Regions from separate parts of the Homo sapiens genome. Here region 1 is linked to region 2. The links come from fine-mapping of genetic effects on gene expression. A gene starts in region 2. The other region holds a variant in brackets. All regions are shown on one strand. Distances are between the middles of the regions.

Region 1 (16,730 bases), 850 kb before region 2:
CAGAGTCTGATGTGTGGGCCTATGGCGTGGTCCTCTGGGAGATCTTCTCCTATGGCCTGCAGCCCTACTATGGGATGGCCCATGAGGAGGTCATTTACTACGTGCGAGATGGCAACATCCTCTCCTGCCCTGAGAACTGCCCCGTGGAGCTGTACAATCTCATGCGTCTATGTTGGAGCAAGCTGCCTGCAGACAGACCCAGTTTCACCAGTATTCACCGAATTCTGGAACGCATGTGTGAGAGGGCAGAGGGAACTGTGAGTGTCTAAGGTTGAAGACGTTCAAATAAAATGCTGCAGTTTCCTCTCAGACTCTGTGAGCCAGGGGAATCCTACACCAGAGGCCCAACAAGACCCACATAGGAAAGAGTAAGAGTAAACATGAGTAGTGTGTTGTTTGCTTCCCAGGGAGAGCAAAGACAGTGCAAAACCCATGTGGTAGACGGACCCATTGAAAGCCAGTGATTGGAAACACAGGCTAGGAAATGTGTCAGATAATGGAGACAACTATTCTTCTTCATGAAGGTTTGTAATACACACTGCACAGGGAAGAATGTCATCCTGTTCAGTTTCCAAAGTAGCTGGTCACAGAGTAAAGCTCTGCTGTATTAAATTTTAATATGAAATGGGATTCAGAGCTTCATTTTTTAATTGAGTTAATTCCTGTCCATTGTGAAAGTAGCTTAATCGTCATGTAAGACACTTAGGTGAAGTACAGAAAACTAAAAAGAAGGAAAAGCCACTCATTCTGTCTCCCCCCAAAGACGAGTCTTAGTGTTTTATTAAATCTTTCTTGCATTTAATGCATAATTTTATATTTGTTTGTATTCTGCAGAGTTGTGGTTACATTTTATTGATAGAGGGTTTCTAAGGAATGAAACAGCAAATCAGCAAGCCTGTAACTCTGAGTTCCCTTTTCTGTCCTGTGCCCCTCCTTTTTTCCTTTCTGTGCATTTGTCATGAATTAAGTCTGCTTATTTTATTCCTCCAGTTTTCTTGAAACAAGTTTTTGTATCTTACTGATTTACCTTTTCCTTTAAAAATTGTATTGGTATCTTTTCCATTGCTTTAATCTTTATTTCTTCTTCTTTCCAGGACTTCTGTCCTTTTTTAGTTATTAAGCTATTTTTTTCTTTTATTTCATTCATGTAATAAACACTCTGGCAGAAATAATAACATTTTAAATACCATTGTAGATTGATATGTATATGCCTTTTGCAAAGTATTACTATTTTTCCTGCATTTGCCTTTGAAGCCACACATTTCAACATTCTCACCTATTAATATTATTACTAGAGTCTATTTAAATCTCTTAAACCATAATTTATAATATGAGATTTCACAAGATACACTTGTGGCTCTGAGTTATTTCAAAACTGATATTTCTGTGCATTCTGACATTTTATTCCTTTTAGAAACAAATTCAGTTGGCTGTAGAATTAATATCGTTCTGCTTAACAACTTTGTGCATGACATATTAACTGATTTTGTTGTATTTCATGATTTAAAAAAAAAAGCAGCAGCTCTGGAACTCAGATTCCTGGGGGTTCAGATTTTTTCTCAGTGGATCCTCACACAATACATCTTTATCTAAGTCCATACATGATCTGAGTTTATTTCTGATATAGCAGGAACCCAAATTCTCCTGAAAACGAACAGGGAAGAGAAAATAACAGTCTACTCTATACCAGCTTATCTTAATTCAGACTAATTGGTAGTTAGGGCATTGGAGGAATGGTGTGAATTCTTGAAAGTAGATTTTCGCTGTCTGCTGGAAAACTCTGCCTGAAATCCCCAAATCTGCCTCATGTAACAGCTTGACATCTTTGGTGGGAAACCTGCCATTTCTTATTCATAGTGTCTCCAGGCAACCAAGACAAAAATGTAGAAATTTTCCTAGACTTTGCCCTCTCTTTCATCATCAGTTTTCTATTAGTTTTACTTCCTAAAATCCTCCTGCTGACATCCTCTTCCCTTCAACCCAAGAGCCAATGACTCAACCTCTACCGTTGCCCACCCTGTCTATTAGCTGGCCTTCCTCTCATTTCAGACCTGAACAGATTCTGTAGGATACAACGACAGTAAGGCGGTCCTTAGTCACAGTTCTGGTTCATAAATAGCGAGGTCAGCATTTAGGACTGAGACCTAAAGAAGTGCTTCAGATAAAAATCATGAGTCTAAGTCCAAAATTGATACTGTAATCCAAATGACTGAATAAAGAATAAAGTTGCAGCGTGTGTCTAAAGCAGAAAGTCAAGATGCCAACAAAGCAGAAAAGTTGGAGAGGGCCACCAGCAAGTCTAGAACTTGAGCATAGATATCCATGGCTTATTTTAGATGGTTCATGTATGCTCTGCAAAATTCAAAGACAGCTTCGGGCTTTCTCCGCTGATAAAGTTTTGTTGTAAAAGACAGACATAGAAGTCAGGCTGACAGAAAATAGAGTAACAGTAATCATAAAAATTATAATATCAGCTAGCATTTATTGAAATCTTACCATGTGTATTCTGAGGCCTTTAAATATATGAACTTAAACCTCACAACATCCCTGTAATGTTGGTACTATCATTATATACATTTTAGTTTTGCTTTGTTTTGTTTTGTTTTTGAGACGGAGTCTCGCTCTGTCGCCCAGGCTGGAGTGCAGTGGCACGATCTTGGCTCACTGCAAGCTCAGCCTCCAACAGTCACAGAGAGATTGTGCAACTGGCCCGAGTGCACACAGCAACAGAGCCTACTTTTTGACCAAAAGAGGCCGAATTCTCAACCACTATACTGTAGAGCCTCTGTACATGATAGAAGCAATAACTGAACCTCAGTAACTCTGTGGAAGTGATTTGTAATTTGCATGTCGTTTCAAGCACACTCTATATCTATATTTTATTCTATTAACTTCCTAAGTCTTTTTAATGAATAGCAAAAAAAGTATATTTCAGCATTATCAATTTAAGTTAATCATAACATCTAATAGGTGACATGTTTATTTTTTCATGAGTTCTAATTACATTTTCAAGTTAAGATCACTGACTTATTCCCTAAGTGCTCGATCTAATGTTCTGAATCACAGGAGTATAGATGCATTATTCACCAATATTGTTTACTTTTTTAAATAAGATTTTTTTTCATGGTAGAATCATCATATACATTCAAAAAGGTAGACAAAAGAGAGACACTCACAGTGTCACTGTTACCAAGTGCCAGGACAGATATCAGTAAGGCACCAGCAGTCATTTTTAGTGATCAAATACCAAACATGGTAAGATACCAGAGTATTTTTCACATGACACCCAAAAACATATTCTCTGCTATCGTGGTAGAGCAGAAAAAGAACACTTTCTTTTCATTTTACAGTATATTACGAACCTGTTCCACGTCATTAAATATTCTTCTAAAAACCCAATTTTGGAATAATATTCTATTTTATTCATATACTGTAATTTAGCTAATCAATCTTGTATTTTTGAACATTTAGGTTTTTTCCAATTTTTATCATTATAAAAAATGCTGTAATTAACATCCTTATTTGTTCATGTCCACATTTCTTTTTATGAAAATTCAGAGAAAGGAAATGTCTGGACCAAATGGCATGTACAATATTAACACTTCTGTTATGTGGTTTCATATTCTGCAGAAATATTACTGCCACTTCTACATTGTACAAGAGATCTCATAGCCCTAAACATTTGCTTTCATAGATAATTTTCTGTTTTTTAGAAATCTTTTGTCTCTTTGGTTATAGAAAAAGAGAACCTCTTTTTAATTTTATTTTTTAAATTACTAGTCAGGTTGAATGTTTCTTGTTCCTAGGTCATTAACAGTTTTTATTTTGGCAATTGTCTACAGCCCATTTTTCTGCTGTGTTCATTTTCTAATCGAATTATGGGATTTATCTTGTAAAAAGCCTATTAAGCCTTTTTCATACTTTACACAAGAGATCACATCTACTTACTTTACCTTAAAATAACATTTACTTATTTTCTTATAAAAGTAATATATTATGTTTGAAAAGAAAAATAATATGCAATAATATACAATAATATGTATAATCATAATAGACAATAATAAAAATGAAAAAACACCAACCAGAGGTAATTAACATTAACATCATAATATTCTTCCAGGCTTTTTCAGATAGACAGGTAGGTAAGTAGGTTGGTAGGTAAATAGATAGATAGATGATACATAGAGAGAGATAGATAGATAATTTAAACAAAAATAAGATCATACTGCTACATTACTTCAAGCCTTGCTTTTATCACTTAATATATCTTAAACATCTTCTACATGAACAAGTATTCATGTGCAACATTAATTTTGATGGTTGAATAGTATTATACAGATTTATCGTAATTGACATAACTATTCTACTGTTAGACATTTGGTTTATTTCTATTTTTCCATTATAAAATGTAATGTTTGGATCATCCTGTTGCTAAATTTTGTAAGCATTTATCTTAAGTGATTTCTTTAGCTATAACTCCTAGAAGTGAAATTTCTAGATTAAAGGATAAATGCACTTTTAATACTTTTTAAATATATTAAAAAATTACCTTCCTGAATTATTTTATTAACATGTACCTCTCCTAGTCAGATAAGACAGCCCATTTATTTCAGTCTCACCAATACTGAGTATAGCATTTTAATCATTGCCAATATAATAGCTAATAGCTTAAAGTTATTTCATAGCTTATATTTACACTTCTTTAAATACTAATAAAATTGAACATTGTTTAATGTTTTGAGGATACTTGATTGGTGATTTGCCTCCTACTATTATTTTTCTACTGGGTATATCTTTTTCTTGTTGCTTTGTAAGAGCACTTTATATATTAAGGAGTTAAATTTTGTGATATATGTTTCAACTACTTTTATCATGTTAAAAATATAGACTTCTATTTGTCTTTTATTGTAGGTTTTATCAATCAGAAAAGAATGTTGACTTTTCCGTCCATTCAGATGATTGTGGCTTTTTTCCCTAATGGATTTGTTAATATGTTCAATTGTATGAATTTATTTCCTAATGTAGCGATATCCTTGTCTTCTAGGAATAAACTTTTTGGGCGAATCATATCAATCTTCTACTTAACTACCAAATTAATTTACATATATTTGCATCAATATTAAGTTCATAAAATTAAAAGTTTATCATTTTCATCTCTGTTAGAGTTTTGTATTGGCATTAGCATTTGTATTAGCATTGTATTAGGAAAAACTCAGGAGTTTTTCTCTATAATCTTGGTTAGTTTATTTTTAAATAATTGTTATTTATGAAAGTAATACATAAAAATGTTGTTTAAAAAAACTCACAAGAGGGTAAAAATTAAAAAAATAATAAAAGTTCCCTTCTTCCTTTTCATCTCTAGTCCCAGCCTAAGTGCTAACCACTTCACCCATTTATAGTGTTAGTTCTTCTGGTGATTACCAGTGCAATTCTAACAAATAGGTTTGCATTTCTCTTTCTGAATTGATCAATTTTTTAAAAATATGCAGCACTCTGACTCAAACTCCCTTTCTTTTTCCTGAGATATGTTAACTTCTAATGTTATATTGTTTATCACAACTTTCACAAATATTTCTAAATAAAGGTTACCTACTGATTCTGGATTGTGCTACATAAAATTAGAGCTTCCAAATTTCCCTCCATCACTTCTCCCTGCTCTCTACTCTCACAATCAGTCAACTATACACCTATTTCTACGCTGTCAACTATATGTTCATTTCTATGAATCTGTAATATTTGCATTTTGTTCTGGAACAAATTAAGATTTAGGTGCTTTGACTAGATTGATTCTAAACATCAAAAAACAAAAATAAAATATCTGCAATTATGTGATCATGTATTTATGCATTGCCAAATAATGGTATTCCATTATTTTAATTTGATAAGATAAATTTAATATACATTAATTCTTATTTCCTCTATTTTATGGAAGAAATATTTTTAAAAATCACAAAACTTTTACATTCGCTTCTCTTCCTGATATTTATTTTTCCTTTTTCTTCTGCCTCTCTTCTTTCGTGCCCTTTTTTCCGAAAATTATTTTGATGATTTTTTTTATTCACCATACATAATTACAAATGAAGAGTTGCTCTGGTTCGTATTGGTAGTAGAAGTGGGGTCCCTTTGCTGTTTTGTTGGTATATTCACCCAGTGTGACCTCTTTTCCGTGGGATGGCTACCTCTGGGCTCTGATTATGTGGCTCATAGGGAAGTATAGGCAGCCTGAGTCAGAATCCCCACAGTTCCAAAGTGATGGAAGACTGTACTCTGAGATACAATATTTTGACGTATTTCACTCCCAGGGAGAGCTACTTGCTATTCTTTCACTGCTTCCATTACCCAAAAGAGTATGATATTCTCCCCATTTTCTGTATTGCCTCACACCTAGGACCCTTCAAACCCACACCAACGACCTCTCAGGCAAATTGATCTATTCAGATAGCAGTTTACAGGGATAGACATGAGGCCTCTTGGCCCACCTGCTCTATACACAATCTTCTAGTCGACCATCCTGATTGACAACCCACAGCCCACCCCTGTCTCTGTATTTGCTGACTCAGAGCATGGAGACTTTATACATGTGAAATCACATCTCCCCTCCCCTCACGCTTGGCTTGTGTGTATTGCAAAAGCTGCAATTTAGTTTTTCCTGTGCCTTGTCTTACCCATGGATAAGAACACTAAGATACTTTCCGCTTTTTGAATATTTGTCAAAGTGATGGCACTTGGATTGGTTTCAGCATGTACATAGATTGATTCTTATTCATATACATTTACTGTCATATTGGGGAAATCTTGAGGGGAAAAGAAAAGCCTCTTACTACCATGTTCATCAAGAGTCCTCTCTGGAATAGTTGAAATAGTTTAGGAGTTATCGGTTCACTCCTTCGTCTTGTTTGCCTCCAGATTTCTTTTTTCCTTCTTTTCCTGTTTCTTAATGTTGGAACAGCCCACACCTCAATCCTTGGATGACATCTCCCTTTTATCTGTATTCATCCCTAGTGATCTCTTCTGGTTGCAAGGCTATAAATGCCATCTGTATGCTGAGATTTTTTTATTTTTAGTTCAAACCTCTCTCCCCAACTTTACACTCACATTTCTAACTGT[G/A]TGTTATAGATGATAGCTTTAGATTCTCCTCCTCAGGACTAGGCTTTCTGCTTGATCTAGGAGCAAAGCTGAAAACTGCTATGGAGCTTGGTGTTGCCTTGATACCGAGGAGGAGTCTCAGAGCCTCTCCAGTGCAAATACACACTTGCAGTGTCCTAGTGCTGCTGACTTACGTACTCATTCTAAAGAGGGTAGATTGTATCCATTTTAATAGCTCTCAATACCCTTGCCCATTCCCATTACAGCTGGCAGAAATTCCCCAGCTGCAAATGGGTTGCATTTATCTGTTACCCATTCCTGATTTGCAGCACGATTGACTGTTTCCTTTTCTGCGTGGTCTATGTGTCACTCCATGAGAATCTGGGAGAGGAGAACTCGATATGGTGCTCATTCCATCATTTTAACCATAGTGTTCTTTATTGTGAAGAGGTATCCCGGTTAGAGTGGAGTCAAAGCTTTATAGCAAGTGTATTTCAGGTAACTATTCTTTTACTTGTTTCAGATCTATTTCAGTAGCACAGCCACCAAGATAGAACACTTATAAGCCCTTATTTTGGTATAGATCACCAGAGAAACCACTCACCACTCGCACTTGGCCTTCAGTACTGAGTCATTACATATTGGAAGGTCAGAAACTACATCAACAGGAAAGACCCATAGGTGTGGGGGTCTGATATATTTGCCAGTACATTTCTTATCATTACAAACAAAGATTTATGTGTGTCTAGATGTTTACCTTGCCTTCTAAGAGGTCATGTCCTCTGAATGAAGCAAAATCAAGGTAAGCCTTTACCTGTAAGCCGTTACATGTCTTCTTTACAGAATCCCTCTTAATTAAAAACTTCTAAGAGATTCAACAGGGTTAGTTTTTCTTACAACCTTCATCGTCAGACCTGTAATTATGCAACTGGCCAGCATTGCTCTTTCAAACCACAGTCTCTGGAAAGTACACACCGTATATAGCATTTTGCCCATAAGAAGAGAAACCACCTGTAGTATCTAAGGTTACGTCAGAGAGATGTTAACCACAAAAAAACCCAGACTTAGATACACACTATCATTTTCTGGGTGTGTTCTTGACCATTTAGAGCTGTGATTAAAATTAGAAGTGTTGGCATGACACTGCTTTCTGACTTTCTTTTTTAGCCATGTTGACACCGTGGTGGTTAGTGTGATGCTCCTTCTTATTTCAATTGATGCTTTACTCAAGTATGGATGAAACATAATTTAAAGTCACCTCTTCTTCTGCTATCTTGATTTTTAAAATTATTTGGATGCATTATATTTAAGAATCTTAAGACAGTCCATTAGTATTATGTATTTATCTTCTCTTCACTCGTTTAAGTCACTTTCTGACTCAGATCACCTTCTCAGGAGACTCTCAGCATCATTCTGCCTGACATCACTCAGTTGCTTTGTTTATGGCAACCTAAAAAAGCAGCTGCCCTAATTTTAGCCCATTCCCAGAGTACCCTCAGAAGTGACAGGTAAGAAAAAATAAACTGATCAAAGATGAGAGAAAGACTTACAGAGGAGTGACACTGAGAGAGCAAAAAACCACAAATAAATTTCATTTCTAAGAACAAAGCAAAGATGACCAGGAAATGCCTGAGGAAACACATTTTTTTTTTTTTTTTGGAGGCAGAGGGTATTATATTCCTTTTTTTTCTTCAACTTTCATTCTAGATTCAGGGAGTACATGGGCGAGTGTGTTATGTGGACATGTTGTGTAGTGCTGATGTTTTCAGTACAACTAAACCTGTCACCCGGGTTGTAAGCATAGTACCCAATAGATAGTTTTTCAACCCTTGCCTCCCTTCTTCAGAGACCTCCCCCTTCTTGTATTCCCCAGTGTCTTTTGTTCCCATCTTTATGTCCATGTGTACTCAATGTTTAACTCCCACTTATACTTGAGGACATTTAGTATTTACTTTTCTGTTTCTGTGTCCATTTTGCTGCAAAGGACATGATTTTGTTCTTTTTGGCTGCATAGTATTCCATGGTGTATATGTATCACATTTACTTTATCCAATCAACCATTGATAGGCAACTATGTTGATTCCACATCATTGCTATTGTGGATAGTGCTGCAATGAACGTATGGGTACAATGTGCCTTTTGGCAGAATGATTGATTTTCCTTTAAGTGTATACCAAAGGAAATGGGATTGCTGTATCAAATGGTAGATCAACTCTTATTTATTTCTCATTCATTTCTCAAATAATTTCTCAATTATTTGAGAAATCAAGGAGACACTTTTTTTTTTTTTTTTTTTTTTTGAGACAGAGTCTTGCTCTGTTGCCTGGGCTGGAGCGCAGTGGCGTGATCTTGGCTCACCAGAACTCTGCCTCCCAGGTTCAAGCAATTTGGAGACATAATTTTTAAGACATTTTTAAATAATAAACCTCAAATATTTTAGGGAAAACATCTTTATCTCTGTTTCTATAACTGTCAACCTCTTTCTAATAAGCTTTGCAAAGCTATATGAAACTAGTTTTTAATTTTTGTATACTTGAGACAATTTTGGAAGAAAGTAGGTATCTACTCATCCAATTTCAGAGAACTCTGAGAAAATTTAGTTATTCTTATGAAAGATCTATTTTCTTATTGCAATAACTGTGAATTTATCTGGCACTTGGCCAAACTTAGCATTAACAGGTAATACATTATATTCACAACAGAAACTAGAAGATGATTCCAGAACAACACAGCCCTAAAGGAAAAATCATTAATTGTTTGACATAAATATTCTACACTTCAAAAATCTACACTTAGATTTTTTTTCTAAGATTGTTTTGTATTATTTACTAACCTAACAGCTTTCCATTAACAATAAATTTAGAACTTTTTTATATTTTAAATATCAATGTGTGCATTATTTTGGTGATGACATAATAAATCATTAGATGTTGCATACATGTTATCAAATGTATATGGAGGTTGCGTAAGTGTTATCAAGACAGGCAGCAGATGGAGTGTTGAAATATATGGACTCAGGGCTGAGTCTGCTGCCTGTCAAATCCTAGCAATTTACTTAACCCCTTTGTGTTCAATTTTCCTCATTTATGAAAAGAGAATAAGAATAGCACCAAGCTCATAGGTTATTGGAAAGATTAAATGATTTAATAAGTAGAAAAGGCTTAGAAAGGTACCTAATACACAGTAAATACTTCCAAGGACTTTGCTAATATAATTGTGTCTAATTTTTTGCAATTATATAGAAAACTGACATACTATAGCTAAATCATTACACAGATCTTTTTACTATTTCCTGCAGATACAGCAATAGAACTAACATAATTAGGTCAGATGCAATAAACCTTTTTAGGAATTTTAATATATGTTACAAAATTACCCTCCAGAAATCTTGCAACAATTTACACAACCAATAGCAATGTTTGAAAGTGCTTATTTCTGATACTTCAGCTAATTTAGCATGTCATCAAATTTAATTCTTAGCCAGTTTGATAACTGAGAAACTTTAGCTCCCTGTTTAAATTTGATTTTTCTTTTAAATTCCTGCAGATATTGTTTGCTTTTCAGATTTTTTACCAGCTGTTTTTGGGCAGTTTGTGAATTGTCAAGTATGTTCTACTGTTTGTCTTCTACTGATTGTTCTCCACCTGGACTGAGTGTGGATCCTGGAACAGTCTAGTTTTTCTTGGGAATCCTGTTACAATGTATGTTCTAGATCTACCCTCCATATTTATTATCTTTAGCCTCATTGTATACATTTTATATCAATTTCTTCTGAGATAGGTAAATGTCTTAATCTGATTTTGTAATTCATTACATCTCCTATCTGCTTTTTACTGTTTTCATTGCATTATTTTTTATTTAATTATTTTTAATAGTAATACATTCACTTGGGTCAACATTCAAAGATATAAAAATCTACACAGTAGACTTCTACTTATAAGAAGAGGGGGTGGATGTGCTTTTTCCTCTTCCTTCCACTAAATACAACTAAAAACCCGAACATCACATAGAAAACCAACGTGGAAAAGTAGAGAGAAGTAGACAGTTCATCTAGGAAGAAGACAGAGTCAAGGAATGACATTCTGGTGAGCTCTCTGGGTTTTCTTTGGGCCTCAGCTATCTCAAACTTGAAGCTGAAGAAGCCAGCAACACAGAAACGCCAGCGGGCATATACCAAAAAAAAAAAAACCAAACAAAAAAAAAGCCCCAACTAAAGCCTGCTATCTTTAGACAAAACACCAGGAAAAGGGCACCTAGCAAGACAGAAACCTTTTAGACAATAATTGCTCTCTTCTAGCCAAACACCACGCGCGCACACACACACAACAAACAAAAAAAATGGCCTCACCTCCACCCACGCCAGCAAAGACCGAGTGTGGATCCTAGACTTCTCCCTCACCAGGTGTAATAAGGAGCTCAAACTTCCCACAGGTGTGAGTCAGAAAAGTCCTCTTCCACAACTCAGACTTTCATGCCTCTGAGCTCTAAATGCATATAGAGGAAATATTTAAGGCAATATATTATAAACATAGGAGGCTAAAGCGATATAAAAGGAGGTCCTTTCTACACTTTGTTTGAACTGGTAAAATGTCGACACTAGTAACTGTGATAAGTTACATACGTACTGTATAATGCATGTATAATGTAATCCCTAGAGCAACCATAACAAAACTCCACAAAAAGATACACTTCAAAACACTATTGGTCAGGTGCGGTGGCTCACACCTGTAATTTCAGCACTTTGGGAGGCCAAGGCAGGTGGATCACCTGAGGTCAGGAGTTCAATACCAACCTGGCCAACATGGCAAAACCCTGTCTCTATTAAAAATACAAAAATTAGCTGGGTGTGGTGGCACATGCCTCCCAGATACCTGGGAGGCTGAGGCAGGAGAAAAGCTTGAACTCGGGAGGCAGAAGTTGCAATGAGCCGAGATCACACCACTGCCCTCCAGCCTGGGTGACAGAGCAAGACTGTGTCTCAAAAACAAACAAACAAACAAAACCCACTATAGATATATCAAGACAGAATTCTAAGAAATGTTCAAGTAACCCACAGGAAGGCAAGAACAAGAAAACAGAAAAAAAAAAAAAAAACAGAGCAAATAAAAAGCAACAAATAAAATGGCAGACTTAAGCCTTGACATAGTAATAATTACATTAAGTATAATTATCGTAGAATTTTAAATGTTTAGATGGGCTTCCAGTCCAAGATGGAGAGAGAGCATGTGTTTGCCTCACCACCTGGGGTCTCAATGGACTACGGATTTGGATAAATTTCTGCAAAATGGAAAACACATGGCATCATACTAACAGACAAGACTCACAGGAAACAAAAGAGTGATACAATAGAGGTAGAAACCATCTGTTTGGTTCTATCCTTGAGAGGCTAAATAGAGACTATTTCCCTAGAGCTACTAACTAAAATACTATCACCTGGCAGGAAGCAGTGGGGGTTGGGAGGAGGGGCGGCAGTGAACTCAAAATAGATGATTACCTTTCTGGTGTCAGTGCCTGGTCCATACCCCTCACTCCTAGCAACAGTTCTTCTTCTCCGTTTCCTTCCTTAAAATCCTCCATTAATTTTTTATTCATTCATTTGACCAATACTTAGTGATTAGCTACTAAATGCTAGGCACTGTCACAGTTGCTGGGGAAATACTAGTGAACAAGATAAGTCTGATTTGGGGGAGTTTTAATTCTACTAACGAACAAATAATAAATATGAAAACAAAAATATAAACAGATCATTTTAAATAGCAATGAGTTCTATGAAAGCAGAGACATTGCAGGAATTAGTGTATATCCTTCCACCTGCTCATCACAAATAAATTCATTAGCAACTGCACTGCTACGACATTTCAAAGGCTGTTGAAATTCCACGTCTCCAAGGGCTGGAGTTCTCATTGCTATCAGCAAATGATCTGACTCCAGAATCCCAACCTTAGGGTATGCTTCCTAGGACTACTCTTAGGATACAGGGTTAGGTCATGTATTAGTCCATTCTCATGCTGCTAATAAAGACATACCGAAGGCTGGGTAATTTATAAAGGAAAGAGATTTAATTGACTCACAGTTCAGCACTGCTGGGGAGGCTTGAGGAAACTTACAAACATGGCAGAAGGGGAAGCAAGCATGTCCTTCTTCACATGGTGGCAACAAGAAGTACTGAGCAAAAGGGGAAAAGACCACACCATCAGATCTCATGAGGACCCATTCACTATCAGGAGAACAGCATGGAAGTAACTGCCCCCATGATTCAATTACCTCCCACCAGGTCTCTCCCACAACACATGGGGATTATGGGAACTACAATTCAAGATGAGATTTGGGTGGGGACACAGCAAAACCATATCAGGTCAGGTTCTTGAAAAACCAAGCCTGAGATAAAGATTCCTGTGCAAGTGGTTTATGGAGGGAGTGCTCTCAGAGGAAATGCCTCTGGGAGTGATAGAAGGAAGTTTGGTTAGTGAAGGAGCTGGGCAAAGGTGTGTTATCAGCGGAAGTGTGACCTCAGCTTGCACTCACAGAGAGCTCTGGAGTATGAGTTATACCGCAAAGATTGTCCTACCCAGAGGCAAAGAAGATTGAATTCTTATACCCCTGCTTTGCCTTTGGATATGAGCCACCCTGGGGCAAGGGCCAGAAGTGGGTAACCTCTCAGGCATCTCCACATGAGACAGTTCCTGTCATTCAAAGGCAATCCTTTCAAGAAGGGTTTCTTAACTTCCCAACTTTCAATTTGGGAAGATTTCTTATTGTCTAGCTTATTTTTATAGACACAGTCATCTTATTAAATAATAGTGACACACTAGCCTTATATGTTGAAGACTTCCCTTAAAACTGCTAACAGATATGGCATAAATCATTGTAATAAAATCAATTCTTTTTGGTTGATCCAAGATTCCATTTTCCTTCTCGTTGAAGAAGTAGGTGAATTTTAAAGGAAAGAACTAACTTTCCAAATTCAACCTGAGCTAGTTACAAAATAAATAAAACAGAAACTGCCCATTCTACCTTTTTTATGCAATAATAACAATACACACTTAGTCCACTAATTAAGTCTTCCCTTCAAGAAAGATTAGTAATTTATTTAGTAATTAATTACTAAATATTAAAAAAATTTAGTAATAAAATTAGTAATTTTATTACATTAGTGATAAAATATGTGTGCCAGGTGCAGTGGCTCATGCCTATAATCCCAGCACTTTGGGATGCCAAGGCAGAAGGATCATTTGAACCCAGGAGTTTGATACCGGCCTGGGCAACATAGGAGGACCCCATCACTACAAAAAAAATTTTTTTAAATTAAAAATTAGCTGGACATGGTGGTGTGCACCTGGAGTCCCAGCCACTCTGGAGGCTGAAGCAGGGAGATACCTTGAGCCCAGGAGGTCAAGGCTGCAGCGAGCCATGATCATGCCACTGTACTCCAGTCTAGGTGACAGAGTGAGACTCTGTCTCAAAAAAGAAAAAAGATTTCTCCCAGGCTTTTGGAGTTCTCAGAGTGTCACAAATGCTAAGAACAGACAAGGAAAGAGGAAGAAAAAGTACAGAGAAACAATCTTCTATCCCCTTTAGTATTTGCAAACTATAGTGTGTCCCTTATTTGTTTCATTGTTATAATCTGGATTCTTGGCATTTAAGAAGAAACTGAGATTTTTCTGTAACTCTGATGAAGAACATTCCCGGAGGCCAATGTCTCTATGTGCTGGAAACCAGAAAGGGGAAGTGTCCCAGCTAGAGTCTGGTAAACCATAATTCTTCCTATTGTCAAGGATTTCACATCTTTGCTCACACATGGGAAAGTTCTCAAAGTAGATTTGACAATATTTCACAAATACCACAAAAGGACCATGCTCAGCAAAGACAATTCCAGGCTTGGCACTAAGCAATGTAATCTATCAACTGGCACCAGTGAGTCTCACTTGGTGTGAATGTTCCACAGCACAGACCAGTACCACTCTTAGATCTGGGCAAGAGGAGACTAACTTGGGCACTGTGATTAAGAGGATTTCACTCTGGTCTTTCTCCAGGCACCATCCTTCTCACAGGGTGAGGGTCCCAGGGGCCAAAGGGCTATGCCTACCTAGAAACTGACTCCCTTCTTTTAAACCATATTTCAGATATGAGGGGCCCCAGAATTTCAGCTCTGCCACTGGCCCTTTTCTGAGTCCCTCTACCCTTGAGTGGACAGTGCCTCTGGCAGTCATATCTTTAGGCTGGGGGTTGTCCAAGGAGCAGCCATTATAAGAAGAATGAACACAGATGTGTTCACAAGACCTTTCATGTGTTGGGCAAACTCAGGGTGGGAAAAGAGAGTAGAAGGGCTGTGATCCAGGGCCTAGCTCTTCCCACACCACCATACTTCAGCAGAGACCTCAGAAGAGTCCTAAAACTCTCTATATAAATAGTATTCAGTTTAGGTAATAATTGAGTTACTATGTGGCAGGCACAATCAGGACTGGCAGGCACTATTCTCAGTATCATATATGTATACACAAATATATATATATATAAAATATGAATTATAATATATTATATATAAATATATTCACTTAATTTTCACACTAACCTTATGGGAAATATGCTTACAGGGAGATTAAATAACCTGCACCAGGCCATACAGCAAGTGGTGGGCCCAAGATTTGATCCCATGCAGCCTGGTTCCAAAACATGTACTCCTATTTCACCAAATACAATTTTGCATCCCTCTGTGAATTTCTAGATTAGATAAATTTGACGTGTATCACAATCTTCCTTGGAATTTGCTTTGCAAAAAAAAAAAAAAAAAAACTAAACAAACCAAAACAACATGATTTTTTTGGAGAAGGCAACTTGCTTAGTTAAAACAACAGGGTGGATCCGGTGCTATATAGAGCAGTTTGCTGCAAGAACACACAGCGTAGGGAACTTAACCCAGACCATGGAATCAAGGGGCACTTCCAGAGGAAGACAGTTTCTGAAATAAGTCTGAAAAGATAGGTCCAAGTTAGGCAAGCAAATAAGATGAGAGCAGGACAGTCCATTCTAGCCTCTAGTAGGAGAACAAAAACAAATAGGAAAGAGGGCCCTTTATTTTTTTTTCATGGGTGGGATTTTATTAAAATTGTACATAGATCTCAAATTTAAATTTAAAAATGAGCATTTTTTTCTAGTATCAAAATAGTTATTTTAAAAATAACTTGGAAGCCGGGCGCAGTGGCTCACGCCTGTAATCCCAACAGTTTGGGAGGCTGAGGTGGGCGAATCATGAGGTCAGGAGTTTGAGACCACTCTGGCCAACACGGTGAAATCCCGTCTCTACTAAAAAAAAGAAACAAAAATTAGCCGGCGCAGTGGCGGGTGCCTGTAGTCCCAGCTACTCTGGAGGCTGAGGCAGGAGAATCGCTTGAACCCGGGAGGCAGAGGTTGCAGAGAGCAGTGATCGCGCCGCTGCACTCTAGCCTGGGTGACAGAGCAAGACTCTGTCTCAAAAAAAAAAAAAACCCTTAGAAAACTTTAATACAACTTTGTTATATATTAAATATTCACCTAAAATCTCAATCATTTCTCTCCCATCTCTCTCTGCTAGAATCTTGGAGGGCCCTTCATTTATAAGTAACTCACTGCAAACACTTTCAAGACAAGAGTGAGGGGAAGGTGAA
Region 2 (16,730 bases):
GTGGTGAAAAATCCGTTGTACATGAGAACATTTCTATGCATTTAAGCCAGAAACGAGGTACATGGCTGTGTGCTCTTCTGTCAACCAATGAAATGTGTTTTCACATGTGTGGCAGTGCAAGTAAATAACACATTATTTGACTGAATCAGGCATGATACTGCACCAAAGTGTTGGTACATATTCACGGTAGTAAATCAGTACCCCTGTTAAAGGATTTATCCCATTGCTTCATATTAATAAAATGGTTACAATATATCACAAGTTTGTTGATATGACGTTTTAAATGAAACATTAAAATTGCTTTTATATAATTTTTAAAGATTAATATAGCATAGTTGATATGCAGAGTCTGTTTCTAGCTAAAGTAAGCTAGTTGTTTTGAGAGCTTAGCCCCAGTCAATGTGAGACAGAGCAGGAAGGCTCTTGCTAACGTAGACAAAGACCTGAGGCAAGGTAGTTAATCTGCGAGGACTTCAGTTGGCTCAATTATAAACTTGGGGAAGAGTCCGACCAGATTATCACTAGGGCCCTTTTGCAGCTCTAAAATTATTTATATTTTTGTAAACTTTAGATGAAAGTGTTTTATGCATCTATTCTGTTGGAGGAGTGTGGAGAAGGTACAGAGCTGAATTACAGGTAACTGTTTTTTAGACTTCAAACGCCCACCTCTTAGCTATAGACAAAATGCCTTTCAAAGATGCTGTGGTTGCCGGTAGAGTCAGCAATCCCTGTCCTGGTGAATGTATTATATAGTTAACACACAATGGTATTTACCACCTAAAAACATAAGTACGTGACATATATTATGAGGACCAAAAAGAAATGTCAGTACTCGACTCTCAAAATTTTTGAATGCCTCTATTAACCTAGCGACGAACTGTAAGAGGACTGGACATGTTAGCATTCATAAGGGTTGGCTGATGAAAACAGTTCATCTTTTGATATTCTTTTGCATATGTGCTAGATTACTGTATTTCTTCCAGTCTTCCTAGAAATGTTTCCGGAATTGTCCCCAGTAGCCTGCCCACTTGGTAATGTTTGGTCAGTCTTTTGGAATCACAGTCATTGCGTGAGTCTAGATGAATGGGCCGTGCTCGAGAGAAGAACTGATTCTTCTTGCCTTCCCTCAACAGATGGACCTTATGCTTCAAAATCCTAGGGTGAAGGAAGAGCCGTTAGTTGTCACAAATGTCAGTCATGTCTTCTGGGTGTCCTTATTATCTGTACCCTGCCCATCCCTCACCAAAAACCCAAAAGCCTCTCCATTTTAGAAACATCTGGAGAAAAATCCTGGGTAGAGAACCCCACAACTCCACTAGTTAGAACATTTTTCTCGAACTTCATTTTAGGGCTATTCCCATTGCCTTTTTGGTTGGTATTCAAGGGTTTATAGAGCATAGCTGTTCAATGCTATCTATTCGTCATTGTGTTACATAGTTGAGGTCTGCTAAGATTACCCTTCAGGTTATATGCATAACAGATATTCTCATAACAGATTCCATGACTAACTCTTCATTGCCTTATTTATGAATTCTAAGTTCTACAAATCATAGGTTACAGTTTCATAACATGTATTAGGTCTACTCTTAAATAGGACCATTGAGATACAGGATTTTTAAAATGTTACATGAAAGAATGGTTCAGTTTAGAGAATTAACTAGTACTATTTATGTTTAGAAAATAATAATTCATTACTTTGAGGGGTTTTTGTTTTTTTGGTTTTTTTTTTTTTGAGATGGTGTCTCGCTCTGCCACCCAGGCTGGAGTACAATGGTGCGATCTTGGCTCACTGCAACCTCTACCTCCCGGTTTCAAGTGATTCCCTGCCTCAGCCTCCCAAGTAGTTGGGATTACAGGTGCCTGCCACTATGGCTGGCTAATTTTTTGTATTTTTAGTAGAGACAGGTTTCACCATGTTGGCCAGGCTAGTCTTGAACTCCTGACCTCAGGTGATCCTCCCGCCTCAGCCTCCCAAAGTGCTGGAATTACAGGTGTGAGCCACCGCGCCTGGCCTAGTAGTAAACTTTTTTTTTAGATGGAGTCTCACTCTGTCACCAGGCTGGAGTGCAGTGACAGGATCTCAGCTCACTGCAACCTCTGCCTCCTGGGTTCAAGTGATTCTCCTGCCTCAGCCTCCCGAGTAGCTGGGACTACAGGCACCTGCCACCACGCCCGGCTAATTTTTTGTATTTTTAGTAGAGACAGGGTTTCACCATGTTGGCCAGGATGGTCTGGATCTCCTGACCTCGTGATCCACCCACCTCGGCCTCCCCAAGTGTTGGGATTACAGGCGTGAGCCACTGCACCCGGCCAGTAGTAAACTGTTAATACCCAAACCTTGGAGATATTTTTCTTGAGTGGAGGCCAATTGCTAGGGTATCACTCAGCTAGTGTGAACCAGACTGCTGGCCACAAACTGAAAATAATGTGGCTTTTATTAGATAGTATAAATGGAATCTAGCTACTTTAAAACATTAAATCAAACCTGGTCTCTTTTGACTTAGAATTATACACTTGAAGCAAATAGATAAATGTTGGTATTGATACAAACTAGTTGTGTATGGATGAATTATAATTATTTATAAAATGTGATGTTAACATTTAAATATTGGCAAAGGCCAAATCTAGAACCTAATAACTAAATTAAATTTACTTCATAAAATTATTTCAGTAGAAACCTACATAATTAGTTGTAAACTTTAGCCTCTTAATTCTTTTTTAATTGATATATGATAGTTGTACATATTTCAGCTTTTTTTTTGGAGACAGCATCTCTTGCCCAGGCCGAGTGCAGTGGCTTGATCATGGCTCACTGCAGCCTTGACCTCCTGGGCTCACATGATCCTCCCACCTCAGCCTCCTGAGTAGCTGGGACTACAGGGACTCATGCCACTATGGCTGGCTAATTTTTTGATTTATTTTTATTTTTATTTTAGTCGGGGGTCTTACTATGTTGCTCAAGCTGATCTTGAACTCCTGAGCTCAAGGGATCCTCCTTTTAAAGTGCTGGGATTATAGGCATGAGCTACAGGGTCTGGCCTTAGCTTCGTAATTATTAAAGGATTTAGGATATCCTCAACAATTGTGTATGGAATGGATCATGTGGTCTCAGATCAGTGTCACAGATTCCTCCTTCCTGGTTTCATTCGGGGGTGGAGAAACTTCTGTCATCTGACAGTCTCTCCTTTATAACCTCACGAAGCACGACATAGTGGAATGACTCTGGCTTTATAACCGGATAGAACAAGGTTGACTGGGCAGGTTACTTTAACCTGTGAGCCTTGTTTTCTTTCATGTAAAGATACTATTTCAGACAGTTCTTAGACGATAACAAGGGTAAAATGCCTGGCATATATTAAGTGATCAGGAAATGTGAGTTATTTTGCCTTCAGAGGGAATAACAAAGAGTCTCATTTGTTAAAAAAAAAAAAAGCATGGTAACAGGAGTGTGTTTTGTGATGATTACAAACCCATTGTTTATTCTTTTAATACATATTTTAATCCCTTGTGCAAGGCACGGTGCTAGAGTGAAGGAGTGATGCTCCTTAGGGTTGGAATTGTGTATTTTAAAAAGCAGCTGCCTGCCCTGTTGCCACCAGTGTGCAAGGTGGAGCAGCCGAGATGACGACTCAGGAAAGAAAGAAAAACTTTCAGAGATGACAGAATGATCAGCAAGTTGCTAGTCTAAGGCCTACATTTAGTGAAGGGACATTTTCAATGTAGCAAACAGATATGCTTAGAATGGTTGCTCAAAAAGACATCTAATAGCCCTAAGTTCTGCCGTCTCCCAAAGTCTCAAAAGTACCTGTGAAAATCTCTCCAGAAAAGCCATTCTGAATCTACAAACCTGCTGGTGATTCTTTCAGCTCCTGATTCATTATTTCTGGGTTCTAAAAATAATGTAATAGGCAAAAAGAAGTAAAATAATTTTTATAGTACATGATACTGTGTCACATTAGATATAGTTATTAATGTGTTTTCCTACTCTTAATCATTTTGGAAACTATAGATGGTATATATTATTGTCATTTTGATATAACATTGGCAGAAATATCTTCCCATTATGTCATTATTTTTATGGAGAAGATTGACTCACAAACCCCTTTCCTGGAAGAATAATCCACTGTTAGTAGACAGGTGATAAAATACAAGTCAGAGGAGTGAAGAACTGTAGCTCCTAACAGGGAAACAAATGAAACATTTGTCATTACAAGGGTAATGACATTTCTAGAAAGTTTCTTGGAAATGAGATAAGTTTGTGCTTAACCAGGGAAAAAAATGTGTGACAAAATTTGAAAGATATTCTACTGGTTACCCATGCATTTTAGCTGTAGTGAGAAGGAAAGAAGGGTACTCTGTCTCCATCCCTCACCTTCCAGAGCTCTGGAAATCACAGCACATGTGGGAAAGGCCTCTGGTCCTCTAGGTAAACCTTGAGTTCTTTGTTTGAGACGGAGTCTTGTTCTGTCGCCCAGGCAGGAGTGCAGTGGCGCAGTCTCACTGCAACCCCCACCTCCCGGGTTCAAGCGATACTTGTGCCTCAGCCTCCCAGGAATCTGGGACTACAGGCATATGCCAGCACGCCCGGCTAATTTTTGTATTTTAAATTAGCCAGGCGTGGTAGAAACCCCGAAGAGACGGGGTTTCACCATGTTGGCCAGACTTGTCTTGAACTCCTGACCTCAAGTGATCTGCCCGCCTTGGCCTCCCAAAGTGCTGGGATTACAGGTGTGAGCCACCGCGTCTGGCCTGAATTCTCTTGAAAGCTAAAATGAAATTCTTTTCCCTGCTCCCACTTTCTGTGATACTGGGCAAGTCACTTCACTTTCCTTAGTGGATCTGTTTCCTCATCTCTGAAATTGTAGATGCGCCGCACTATCTGATGGTTCCCTTCAACTTTGAAGTTCCATGATGCAAAAATAATGGATGAGAAGTCTTGTGGGGAAAGTGTGGAGCATCACACAGATGGTCAGCCTTCCTCAAGTACAAGTGGCGCCCGGCCTGCTTATCCATGGATCACAGACCATTCCTCTTGAACGGTGCAAAGTAACACTGAGGTGGGCGGGGCAGTGGGTGTGTAGGGCATGAAGGAGGCAGACACAGCACACCCCTAGACTTTTCCTGCTACCTCGTGGCTGATACAGTATGACATGGCTGACGTGTGTCCCTTCATTGAGGGCAACTCCAAAGCCTTCATTTCTAATGATTTTGAGGTAATCTCATTATTTCAGCTGCCATTGCTGTGGAGACATCTTCACATTAACATCTTGGCTACTAAACATTTTCAGCAGCCTAAAGGCATGTAGCAATGCCATGGAAGTCACTTCGTTACTCCTAAACCAAACCCCACATTATTTTTTACTCATCTCAAGCCAAGTCTTGTTTCCTAATTTCTGTTTTGGCATTAGTTCTGGCCCACTCTCTGCTACAGAACCCTTTGTCCTCTTTTCTTTGCATTTCATAACCACCATGAAGTACCACTGATTTTGTCTTCTAAATTTGTTCCCCCTCATTCCTACTCTAACAGTCCTACCCAGGGCCTCATTCCAGCTACTCCCCCACCATCAGCCATTTATCTTCTCAACTTCAGTTCATTTTGCACATTCATCTCAGATTAATATTCCCAAAATGCCTTACCCTGTGGCTATCCCACTGTTTACCATAAACTTTTGTGTGTATGTGAGGTTTTCTATGACTTCTGGCCCTAGCAACTTTGTATCTGCTATTAGTCACTAGAGCTTCCTCTATTTTTAAATTTATTCACTCTACATGTGTGCATCGCCTCCAGCTGTCCTCCATACTGGACTGTTCTTCCTTCTGAGCCATCTGCAAGACACGTATCTCCAAAGTCCAGCTCTCACGATCTATGATGAGCCTTTCCTAATCCAGTATGTATATCTTTGCACTGAGTTCTTTGCCATATCTTTTAAATATGAAATCATTCTATTTTGTCCTATTCATCAGTCTCAGAATTGATTGTTGAATGTTCCCAACATGTACTTTCATCTCTTTACTAAGATATATATTAATTTCTTTGTGGTGAGGAAATTGGCCACTAGAGAGGGCTTTCAAATGTGCAAGTCTCCCTTTGGCCCAGGCACAGCTAATCTGAGCACGTCAATGCCACACATCCTTGCCTTCAAAGAGTAATTGGGCCAGGGGTGGGCCCATGACTTAATACCAGCCAGTGAGGTTCATTATGGGGATTTTTGCTGGAACGATTAGAAAGAAAAGAGGTACTATTTTTCCTGGGTTTGCTAGATGGGGACAGTGAAAGTGTGGTGCCTTCCTTCATACCACTAGAGAAGTCCATCTACCACCAAGGAAAATGAGGCTAATCTCAGGAAAAGCAGAATCAAAACAAGGAGGATGAGAGCCCCAAAATTATTATTTGGGTAATTGAATTCACTAGTTTAAAGTCCCTGGACTTTTCAGTTACACAAGCCAATATATTACCTTTTGCAATATTCAGTTTAAGTGAGTTCTGACAAATACAATGGTGTACAAGAATAATGACGTATTAATGATACATGGAAAAAAGCAACACAAAAATTTTAAATATAGTAACGATCCCAGTTTTGTAAAACACTTATTAAAAAATGCAGTAGGCCTATAATGCCAGCACTTTGGGAGGCTGAGGTGGGAGGATCACCTGAGCCCAGGAGTTCAACACCAGCCTGGCCAACATCGTGAAACCCCGTCTCTACTAAAAATACAAAAATTAGCCGGGCGTGGTGGTGTGTGTCTGTAGTCCCAGCTACTCAGGAGGCTGAGGCAGGAGGATCACCTGAGCCCACGAGGTGGAGGCTACAAGGAGCTGTGATCACGCCACTGCACTCCACCCCGGGTGACAGAGCAAGACCCTGTCTCAAAAAAAAAAAAAAAAAAAAAAAAAGCAGCAGAATAGAAACAATGATGACAGTTAAATGGTGAGATGAGAGTGAGAAACGCTGAATTTAATTTTATTCTGTATGTTTCACAAAGATGTCAGGGTCTGGGATTTTATCCAATTTACCATACTCCACCAAATCAACTGGTAGGATCTCCGTGAAACAGTAACAGGGTCATTTAGAAACCTGTTGCTGCCTCATGAAAATCCTATGAACTCTCCTTGGTTCCCCGGTGATACTGTCTGGCAAGGCCCCTTATCTCTCCAACTCATGTCACACCTTGGCTCCAGTTCTCATTTCTCAGGGGTGCGTGTTTGCTGCCGCCCACTCCATCCTCGCGTCCCACGCCCTCGCGATTCCTGCTCATCCTAGGGGCGCCAGCTTCGCTGGAGGACGCCGCGCTCTGCGGGTCCCCGCCTCGGTTCCAGGCCCAGCTGCAGGTGCCACCCAGGTTTCAGGCGCTGAGGAGCGGAGAGCACTGCCAGCTCGCTGGGGTCCCCGCTGTCTCTGGCAAGCGGCTCCGCGCCGGGTGGGCTGGGGCGGCGGGGCGGGCGCAGCTGCTTCCCCGCCCCGGGGCGGCACCCGCGCTCGGGGCTGGCGGCTCCTCCCCGCCCGGCCGGGCCCAGCAGCCCCTAGGAGCCCAGCGCCGCCGCCATGTCCTCCGGGGCTAGCGCGAGCGCCCTGCAGCGCTTGGTAGAGCAGCTCAAGTTGGAGGCTGGCGTGGAGAGGATCAAGGTGCGGGCCCCGGGTACCCACGCTCCGGTCCTTCCGCCCGCGGGGCGTGAGAAGAGGAGGCCGGCGGCCCGGACCGGGCGCCAGCGGGGGACTCGGTGGCGGCGGCGAGGCCTCGGCGGGGCGCGGGGGCGGTGGGGTCCGCGGTGAGGGAGGGCGCGGGGCAAGCCGGGGGCCCGGGCCTGACGGGAGGAAGCCGCGCCTGGGGGGCCCCGCGGTCGTGGTCGGTCCCGGTCCCTGGGGGTGCGCCCACTCCAGAAGGCGGCCGTGGTCAGTTCCTCGGAGGGCGCAAGGGATGCCGGCGACGCGCGGGCCGGGAGGGTGGACCCAGGGCTGGGGAGGCCACCGCAGGGCGGCGAATTGGTGATGGATTGGTAGGATGAGAGCGAGAGGGAGGAGAGCCAGGATGCTCGGGTTTCTGTCGTCGTGACAGGGTGGACGGCGCTGCCACCCGCCGAGGTAGAGAGGAGGGGGAACAGGTTTGGGGAAATGATGAGTTCGGCTGCGGACCTGGGGACTCCGGGGAGTCATCCGGGAGGTATTTGTCCTCATGGCCTGAAGCTCAGCGCCCAGGGCTGAAAGAGGTCATTCAAGTGCATTGGGGCGAAAAAGCCTCTTCTATGAAGAGCAGAGCTCAGAGCCTGGGACCCGGGGACCAGCCACACCGATGGCCGGTGGCCGAGAGAAGAGGAAATAAGAGACAGCAAGGTTTCCGAGCAAGGCCTAGAGAAGAGGAAATAAGAGACAGCAAGGTTTCCGAGCAAGGAAGTAGGGATTTCCAAAAACTGGGGGCTCAGTCAACATGTCCAGCGTTTAGTCAGTTGGCTAAAAGGCGTCTGTTGTAGAGCTGTGTTTAGCTACGAGTGCAGCATTATTTGCAGAAGATCTGTAAGAAGGAACACAACCAGGATAGTCCCTGTGCCTCAGTTTCTCCTTTGCTGTGTGCCTGGCACTGCTACAGGGAATAGGGTGGTTCTGGAGGGGAAGGTAAACAGCAACTTAACGGATACATAGCATCGCTTCATGTACTAAGTGGAGTGAAGATAATAAACAGGGTAAAGGGAGAGAGGGCTGTGGAATGCAGAGGTCTGGTGGCTTATGTGTTAGTAAAAGCAGAATCTGGACTGTCATAGGGTAGGCAGACGTTTTTTCTTTTTAAAGAAACCTAGTTTTAAAGAGGAAATAACGTGTTTTTTTAACTTAGGAAATGAAAAGCCATGTTTTAGGGTTGAGAGGAAGTAACAAATTATATTTTTAGGTTCCAGGGAAGAAACAAATGGAAGCCAATTGCTGGTAGAGGAGACAGGGCTACGGGGGGGTGGGGGATTGGTGGCACAGCTTCTGAGACAGGAAGAAAGAAGGTAAGGGTGTGTGTAAAGATAAGTTTCTAGATATGGGCTAAACTTGTATGGTGACACTTTTCTTTGTGAAATAGGAGGCCAGGTTTTCTTCTAAGGCAGAGGAAAGGGGACTAAGGGAGTGGCCCCTGAGCAGGCACGCAGATGCGCTGTGACTGAAGACCCAGCTGCTGTGACAAGGGAGACTGCTGGTCATATTTGTGATTTTTTTTTTTTCCTGCAGCAATCTTTACCATCCTGGAATGTGAGTGCTGAAGGTGAACGGTAGTTGAAAGAGGAGTAAGTTAGCAGGGGAGGTATGCCAGAAAGGTGGAGGTGGGGCCGGAGGGCAAGGCGTGTGAAGGTCTGGCCAGAAAGAGGCTGAGCCTAGATGGATAGAGAAGGAATGCAGCCAGCCTCCTGGTGATAGGTGAGACAGAAGGGGAGGAGGTGATGCCTGGTGATCTCGGTGAGGTCAGAGCAGAATAAAGGAAGAATAAAGGAGGCAGCACCCTGGATGGGAAGGAGAGATTGTGATCAGAGAGTAGGATACTGGAGTGTAAAATTTCAGAAGTGGAGCAGTTACAGGTGTTGTAACTGTATCTGTTGGCATTGAGGAGAAGGCTGTTTGAGGGGAAGAAGTCAGGGAACTGAAATGAGGGTTGTTGGAAATTCACAAAGACAATGTGGGGACATGAGGTAGAAAGGAAAACTGTGAGCCAGTCAGATGCCTGTCTACCCGCCAAGTAGCTAAGAAAGAGGAAAGATATTCTTTTTTTTTTTTTTTTGAGATGGAGTTTCATTCTTGTTGCCCAGGTTGGAGTGCAATGGCATGATCTCAGCTCACTGCAACCTCTGCCTCCCAGGTTCAAGCGATTCTCCTGCCTCAGCCTCCCGAGTAGCTGGGATTACGGGCACCTGCCACCACGTCCACTAATTGGCTTTTTTTTTTTTTTTGTATTTTTAGTAGAGATGGAGTTTCACCATATTGGCCAGGCTGGTATCGATCTCCTGACCTCAGGTGATCCTCCCGCCTCAAGCTCCCAAAGTGCTGGGATTACAGGCATGAGCCATGGCACCTGGCCGGAAAGATGTGCTTATCTACCTTTTAAAAATGATGATGAAACTGAGAGCCATATAATTCAGGTGAATTGCCTGAGCTCGCAGTAAGCTTATTTACAAATAGGATAATAAGCCTATTTAAGAGGTGCGCTCATGGAAGTATGATCTGGGGTACTTGGCAGGGCTTCCCTCAGACAATACCTTAGAGAGTCACAACCATTCCAGGGTCTGGTCTACCTCACATCCTCATTCATTGTTGGATGTGCTTAGCATAGCCAGAGGTGTCTTCTCTTTGACAGACTTGCTATCTGAAAAATAAACCAGGACACCAATTTTCTAGCATATAATAGAGGACATCCCTTCCCAGCTATAGGAATGCTTGGTATCCTTCCAAGAACTCCTCCTTTAGAGGAGCCTCACAGAAGTTGCTGGGTAAACATGGGCTCAAACCAAGGAAAGTCAGGTAACCTGGGTGGAGGTTATCCCACCACCAATGGCAGGGGACAGCTTGCAAGTATTTGGGCTTATAGTCTCCCAGCCCACAGCCTCTCTCCCTTGCTAGTGTTAGAGAGATGCTGATCACGTTTACTCTTCTCTTATTTTCTCTGCGTATCCCCTTACCTTAACTTTTTGACCATGTTCTTGAGCCTAGAGTTCAGTTAGTCTCATTTCTCCAGGAGTCCTGGAGACAGTGTCCTTCCACCTACCATGTGTGGAGTTTACCTGCCACCCCAATGCAAAGATAGTAAGCCTGAGCATAATTGATTCTCGATTTCTTTTGAATTAATAACTGGTATATATAACCATTAATTCCAATTATAATTCACATGAAAATGTCAGAGCTTCTATTGAGAGCAAAAGCAAACTTTAGCATTAGCCTGGTAATATTATATTATGGTTTTATATTCATATAATATGGAGTAAACTGTCATTACATTAATGCAACCAAAATTCCTGGAGCTGTCCAGAAACTTGGTAGCAATTGTAACATAAACAGTTAATTTTCCAGTTATTTGGAGGCTTGGAAAATTAACACAAACTAGTAGTAATACCTGAACAGCAATTGGAACCATTTTTGTACAATATGGGTGAATTGTATTCAAAATGCCTTTTAATGCAAAAAAAAAAAGTACAATGAGGAAAACCTCCAAGTAGAAATATGCATCAAATGGAAGATAAGAAAAGGGATAATGATATTGTATCAGTTAGTTTTTGCTGCCTGACAAACCACCCCAAAATTTAGTGGCTTAAAAGATTTATACTCACAGTTCTTAGATGGACAATTTGAGCTAGGTTCAGGTGTACAGTTCTGCTGATCTTCTGGGCTCTCCCATGCATCTGCAATCAGATAGAGTGTTAACTGGTGTTGGCTGGTGTCTGGGTGATTGAGAATGGCCTCACTCACAGGTCTGCAGGTTGATAGGCAGGTGCTGGTTGTAGCTTACCAGTTCTCCTCTACAAGACCTCCAGGAGGCTATCTTGGGCTCCTTCAGATGGTTGTCTTACAGTTCCACCTGCACCAAGAGAGATAGGTGCAGAGACTCTTGAGGACTAGCTTGGAACTTGCCCTTTATTTCTACCACATTCTACTGGTCAAAGTCAGCCCAGATTCTTTTCTTTTTTTGTTTTTTTGAGACGGAGTTTTGCTCTTGTCACCCAGCTTGGAGTGCAATGGTGCGATCTCGGCTCACTGAAACCTCCGCCTCCTGGGTTCAAGCGATTCTCCTGCCTCAACCTCCTGAGTAGCTGGGATTACAGGTGCACGCCACCACACCCGGTTAATTTTTTTTTTTTTTTTTTTTTTAGTAGAGACAGGGTTTCACCATGTTGGTCAGGCTGGTCTCGAACTCCTGACCTCGTGATCTGCCCCCGCTTGGGCTCCCAAAGTGCTGGGATTACAGGTGTGAGCCACTGCGCCCAGCCACAGTCAGCCCAGATTCAAGGGGTGCGTCAATAGACTCTACCTCTTCGTGGAAGGAGCTGCAAACTATTGTGATCACGTTTGCAGTCTACCACAAATGTATTGCTATATGTTAGCGCTATTCTAATAGCTTTATATGTGTGAACTCACTTAATTGTTACAGCAACCCAGAGAGGTGAGTTACTATTTCTAATTATTTCTCAGATGAGGAAGCAGCTACTGAGACGTTGAGTAACTTGCCCAAGGTTATATAGGTAGTGGCAGAGCTGAATTTGAGTCCACGCAGTCTGGTTCCAGAGGCTATACTCCCAAATAATAAGCTATACCGCCTCAAAAGCAAGGCGGAAGAACTTTATCACTTGTTTGGAGCAGACTGAATAAGGCTTCAGACTTGTAAACATTAAGACAATTTGCTCATTTGGCAAACTTGGATATATTGATGCATGTTTTATATAAGTAAAAATTTGTAAAGGGAATGCTAGAATGAGCTATTTCTTTACCCGTTCAGTCTCAAAACTAGATTTCTAAATGGATCAAAGATACAGCTTTTTCTTGTCTTCGTTGAATAAGCAACTAAACCAAAAAATATCTAAATTGACGTTCATGGAAATTGTAACCTTTTCTCTTTGTAGTTCAAGTATTAGAACTTTCAGCAGAAAGAGACTTTTGGAGGTCACAAAAAGTTGATATTTACCAAGTTGGATGATCGTTTTCAGAATATCCTTGACTGCCGGGTGGCTTGGCTGTGAGCAGGGTGCCATGTTGCTGTCCCTTTGTTTCAGGTCTCTCAGGCAGCTGCAGAGCTTCAACAGTACTGTATGCAGAATGCCTGCAAGGATGCCCTGCTGGTGGGTGTTCCAGCTGGAAGTAACCCCTTCCGGGAGCCTAGATCCTGTGCTTTACTCTGAAGACTCGTGAGTAATGATACACCATGATGTCTTGGGCCCATAGCATTATCACAGGGCTTCCCAAAGGACTTGAGCAACTGAGTTTTGAATGTCTCCTATTCTTGGGGAAATTAAAACAAGAGCCAGCAAAATGCACAACTTTCCCTGAAGTGTGATTCTAGTGTATATTTACCTTGCCTGTAGAATACATCTAATCAGGACAGTCTGAAGTCTCTCTGGCACTAAGTCATGAGATGCCAACATCCTTCTGTACTTGAGCTCTTTGAGTTGGCTGGTAGTAATTTCTTCCTTTCTTTCTTTCTTTTTTTTGAGACAGTCTCGCTCTGTCACCCAGGCTGGAGTACAGTGGCATGATCTTGGCTCACTGCAACCTCCATCTCCCAGGTTCAAGCAATTCTCTTGTCTCAGCCTCCCGAGTAGCTGGGACTACAGGTGCCTGCCACCACGCCCGGCTAATGTTTGTATTTTTAATAGAGATGGGGTTTCACCATATTGGTCAGGCTGGTCTCGAACTCCTGACCTCAGGTGATCCACCCGCCTCGGCCTCCTAAAGTGCTGGGATTACAGGTGTGAGCCACCACACCTGGCCAGTAATTTCTTGACCTTAAGCCCACCCTCTCTGTCCTTATAGCATCCAAGGGTTGGGATTTGCTACTTAGTGCTATCAACTGACTTGCTACTCTTGGGAATAAGGACTCCCCAGAGTGGGAGATGTGTGCCTACCACCCGCTGTGATTTCTTTCCCAATGGTTTTCAGAATATATCTCTGTTTTAATGGAGGAAGAAATATAGCTATTGGGAAAAAGTGTGAGTGGGGTTAAAAGAGCTTTAAAAATTGATAAATGAAAACACCTCTCTGGTGGCATATTAGAAACTTCTTGGGTTCGAATGCTTTGTATTGGGGTCATTTTCACAATGTGTTTCCCCCCTCATCGCCGAGACATCTTGCTCTGTCACCCAGGCTGGAGTGCGGTGGCGCGATCTTGGCTCACTGCATCCTCTGTCTCCTGGGTTCAAGCAATTCTCCTGCCTCAGCCACCCGAGTAGCTGGGATTACAGGCGCATGCCACCATGCCCACCTAATTTTTTTGTATTTTAGTAGAAATGGGGTTTCACCATGTTGGCTAGGCTGGTCTTGAATTGGCTGGTCTCAAACTCCTGACCTCATGATCTGCCTGCCTTGGCCTCCCAAAGTGCTGGGATTACAGGCGTGACACAATGTTTTTTTAAGAGGACAAGGGCATGAATTATTAGAGTCTTTTGGGACCAACATATTTCAAATGATGTGTTCTAAGGGGTGTTTATACAGTGAGTAATTATCTTAGGTCCTTCTTCACAAGTAGCAAAAGGAAATTGTTCACATTTAAAAGAAGGAAGCAATCTATCAAATCTTATTGTACTTTTTAATGGAAAATGTTCATATTTATGGTGTTAAGATAATAGTCTTATGTTGGCATAGCATTTTTCTTTTTACAAAGCTTCCTTCTTCCCTCCCCTCCCCTCCCCTCCCCTCTTCTTCCCTTCCCTTCCCTCCTTCTTTCCTTCCTTCTCTTTATTAAATTGAGATGGAGTCTCACTCTGTCACCCATGCTGGAGTGCAGTGGCACAATCTTGGCTCACTGCAACCTCCACCTCCCAGGTTCAAGTAATTCTCCTGCCTCAGTCTCCCGAGTAGGTGGGACTGCAGGTGTGCAGCACCATGCCTGGCTAATTTTTGTATGTTTAGGAGAGATGAGGTTTCACCGTATTGCTCAGGCTGTTCTCAAACTCCTGACCTGAGGTGACCTGCCTGCCTCGGCCTCCCGAAGTGCTGGGATTACAGTCGTGAGCCACTGCGCCCGGCCTTACAAAGCACTTTCATGGGTGCTGCTCATTCAGTGGTGTGGTTTAGATGTCTTTTGTATTCACCTGTTACTTTCATTTTTTTTTTGTTTGAGACGGAGTTTTGCTCTTGTTTCCAGGCTGCAGTGCAATGGTGCGATCTCAGCTCACCACAACCTCTGCCTCCCGGGTTCAAGCGATTCTCCTGCCTCAGCCTCACTAGTAGCTGGGATTACAGGTGCCCGCCACCATGCCCGGCTAATTTTTTTGTATTTTTAGTAGAGGCAGGGTTTCTCCATGTTGGTCAGGCTGGTCTTGAACTCCCAATATCAGGTGATCCACCCACCTCGGCCTCCCAAAGTGTTGGGATTACAGGCGTGAGCCACCGCGCCTAGCTCACCTGTTGCTTTCTATTTCGTGAATACTAAAGTACCCTATTAAATGATGACTAGTTAATTTTATAAAGAAATCTTACTAAAGTGAAAACCAAACAAACTCTTTTTCCAGTAGGAGAGAAGTTTGCTGAGGAATGCCTTCAAGCACAAAGTGATGAATGACTGCCTTCAAGTCTCAAGAAAACACTTTTCCCTAACTTTTAGAGATATTTCAGCCCTTTCCTGTGGCCTGGTCCTATAGCCAAAATCACAGATATTCATGAGTTTCTACTTGAGTGAGAAAACTGGGTGAAGGAATAGAATTTTAAATAGTAATAACTGCTTGTTTTTTTTGTGCAAGTACTTTTATACATAAGATAAACAAAAACCTTACCACCAAACATACCAAAATGCACCTCTTTCATAAGTGAGTTACTAAGATTTCTATACCTGGAATATCATGTATGTTTCATTTACTGGATGTTTACATTTTAGGAAGGAAAATAGTTTTGTTTATTTAAACAACTGAATACTTATAAACTGTTGTTCCTGGAAGTTATTTATTCCATAAAAAATTTGTTCTTTTGTCATGAATTTATAATTCCTAAATGAAGACCAGAAAGTACAAATTGCTGGGAGGAAGAATAGGCTTTATTAATCAACTGATGTCTTGATTTTTCTAAATGGGAAGATTGCTTTATTTTTAACACTAATTATGGGAGCAGATTCTTAGCAAACTTCTTTGGAAAAGTTAATGTTATGATGTGCATTAGGCTGCCCCATCGTGTATATAAATGAAGCAGATTTGATTTTTGTATTCTTACGTTTCTCTGCTTTGTAGTTGTGGCTGTACTTAAAGAAATACAGAATTTCATATATTTAAAAATGTTTAAAATGTGACCCACAGAACATTGTAAATGATTAAAAACTAACATGAAAATATTACAACCTAAAAGAATTCTTAACTTCACAAGTGTTTTACTTCGACGATGTGCCTTTGATTTAATTTGGGACACTTTTTTAGAAGGATACATTATTCGTGTTTGCAACGGTCTTTGAAGAGCTTGGAAATAAAATTTCTGCTTAATTAATCATTTTTCTATGACAGCAATATTTTGTGTCTGATTTTGTATTAAGGACTCAAGGATTTCTGTTTGCCTGTGAGATTGAGTGCTGGAATGAGAGAGTGAAATTGTTGTTTTTAAGTCTTTGTAGAATTTTGCAAATGTCCTGAAAAATAGATAACTGTATAACATGAAGAAAATATCTCTATTAATGGCAACATTTGTTCTCTGAAATAGCTATATATAAACTCATAAATAAACAAAAATATCTGTGAGTGTAAGTAGTGTTACAATAGAGAAAATAGAAGTTATTAGATGGGAACTCCCTTAACTTTTAGCTACTAAACTTCTAGATCTAGTGATTGGAATCCCTTCCATTCAGTCATAATTCAGGCATCCCTTTTATAACCTATTTGTTCTCTGGATCTGTTTCACCTTCTCTGAAATTGCACACTACCAGTGATCCTTTCTCCTTCATCTTCAAGTTCTCTGCTGGATGCTTTATTTTCTCTTTTCTTCTCTTCTCTTTTCTTTTTTGAGACAGGGTCTCACTTTGTCACCCAGGCTGGAGTGCAGTGGCGCTATCTCGGCTCACTGCAGCCTCAATCTCCTAGGTTCAAG

The links. PIP is the estimated chance that this variant, and not a neighbour inherited with it, causes the effect. A credible set is the group of variants that fine-mapping cannot tell apart.
Region 1: its variant is the best candidate, but not a certain one, in a credible set for the expression of GNG10 in spleen (GTEx, PIP 0.67).

What each region holds. Positions count from the first base shown.
Region 1 is chr9:110,800,720-110,817,449 of GRCh38, forward strand. MUSK (muscle associated receptor tyrosine kinase) reads left to right here. Exons shown (of 15, transcript NM_005592.4): 15 at 1-5,839. The coding sequence ends at 269. Among named protein-coding and RNA genes, the nearest start is that of MUSK, 140 kb to the left of the region's middle. RefSeq lists an enhancer at 8,004-8,053. The variant G/A (reference allele first, on the strand shown) is at 7,108.
Region 2 is chr9:111,654,091-111,670,820 of GRCh38, forward strand. GNG10 (G protein subunit gamma 10) reads left to right here and starts at 7,515. Exons shown (of 3, transcript NM_001017998.4): 1 at 7,515-7,625; 2 at 12,725-12,856; 3 at 15,179-16,136. The coding sequence starts at 7,545. The coding sequence ends at 12,850. DNAJC25-GNG10 (DNAJC25-GNG10 readthrough) reads left to right here. Exons shown (of 3, transcript NM_004125.4): 2 at 12,725-12,856; 3 at 15,182-16,136. The coding sequence ends at 12,850. DNAJC25 (DnaJ heat shock protein family (Hsp40) member C25) reads left to right here. Exons shown (of 4, transcript NM_001015882.3): 4 at 1-255. RefSeq lists enhancers at 7,096-7,155, 8,226-8,325, 8,526-8,575 and silencers at 7,336-7,785, 7,816-7,935.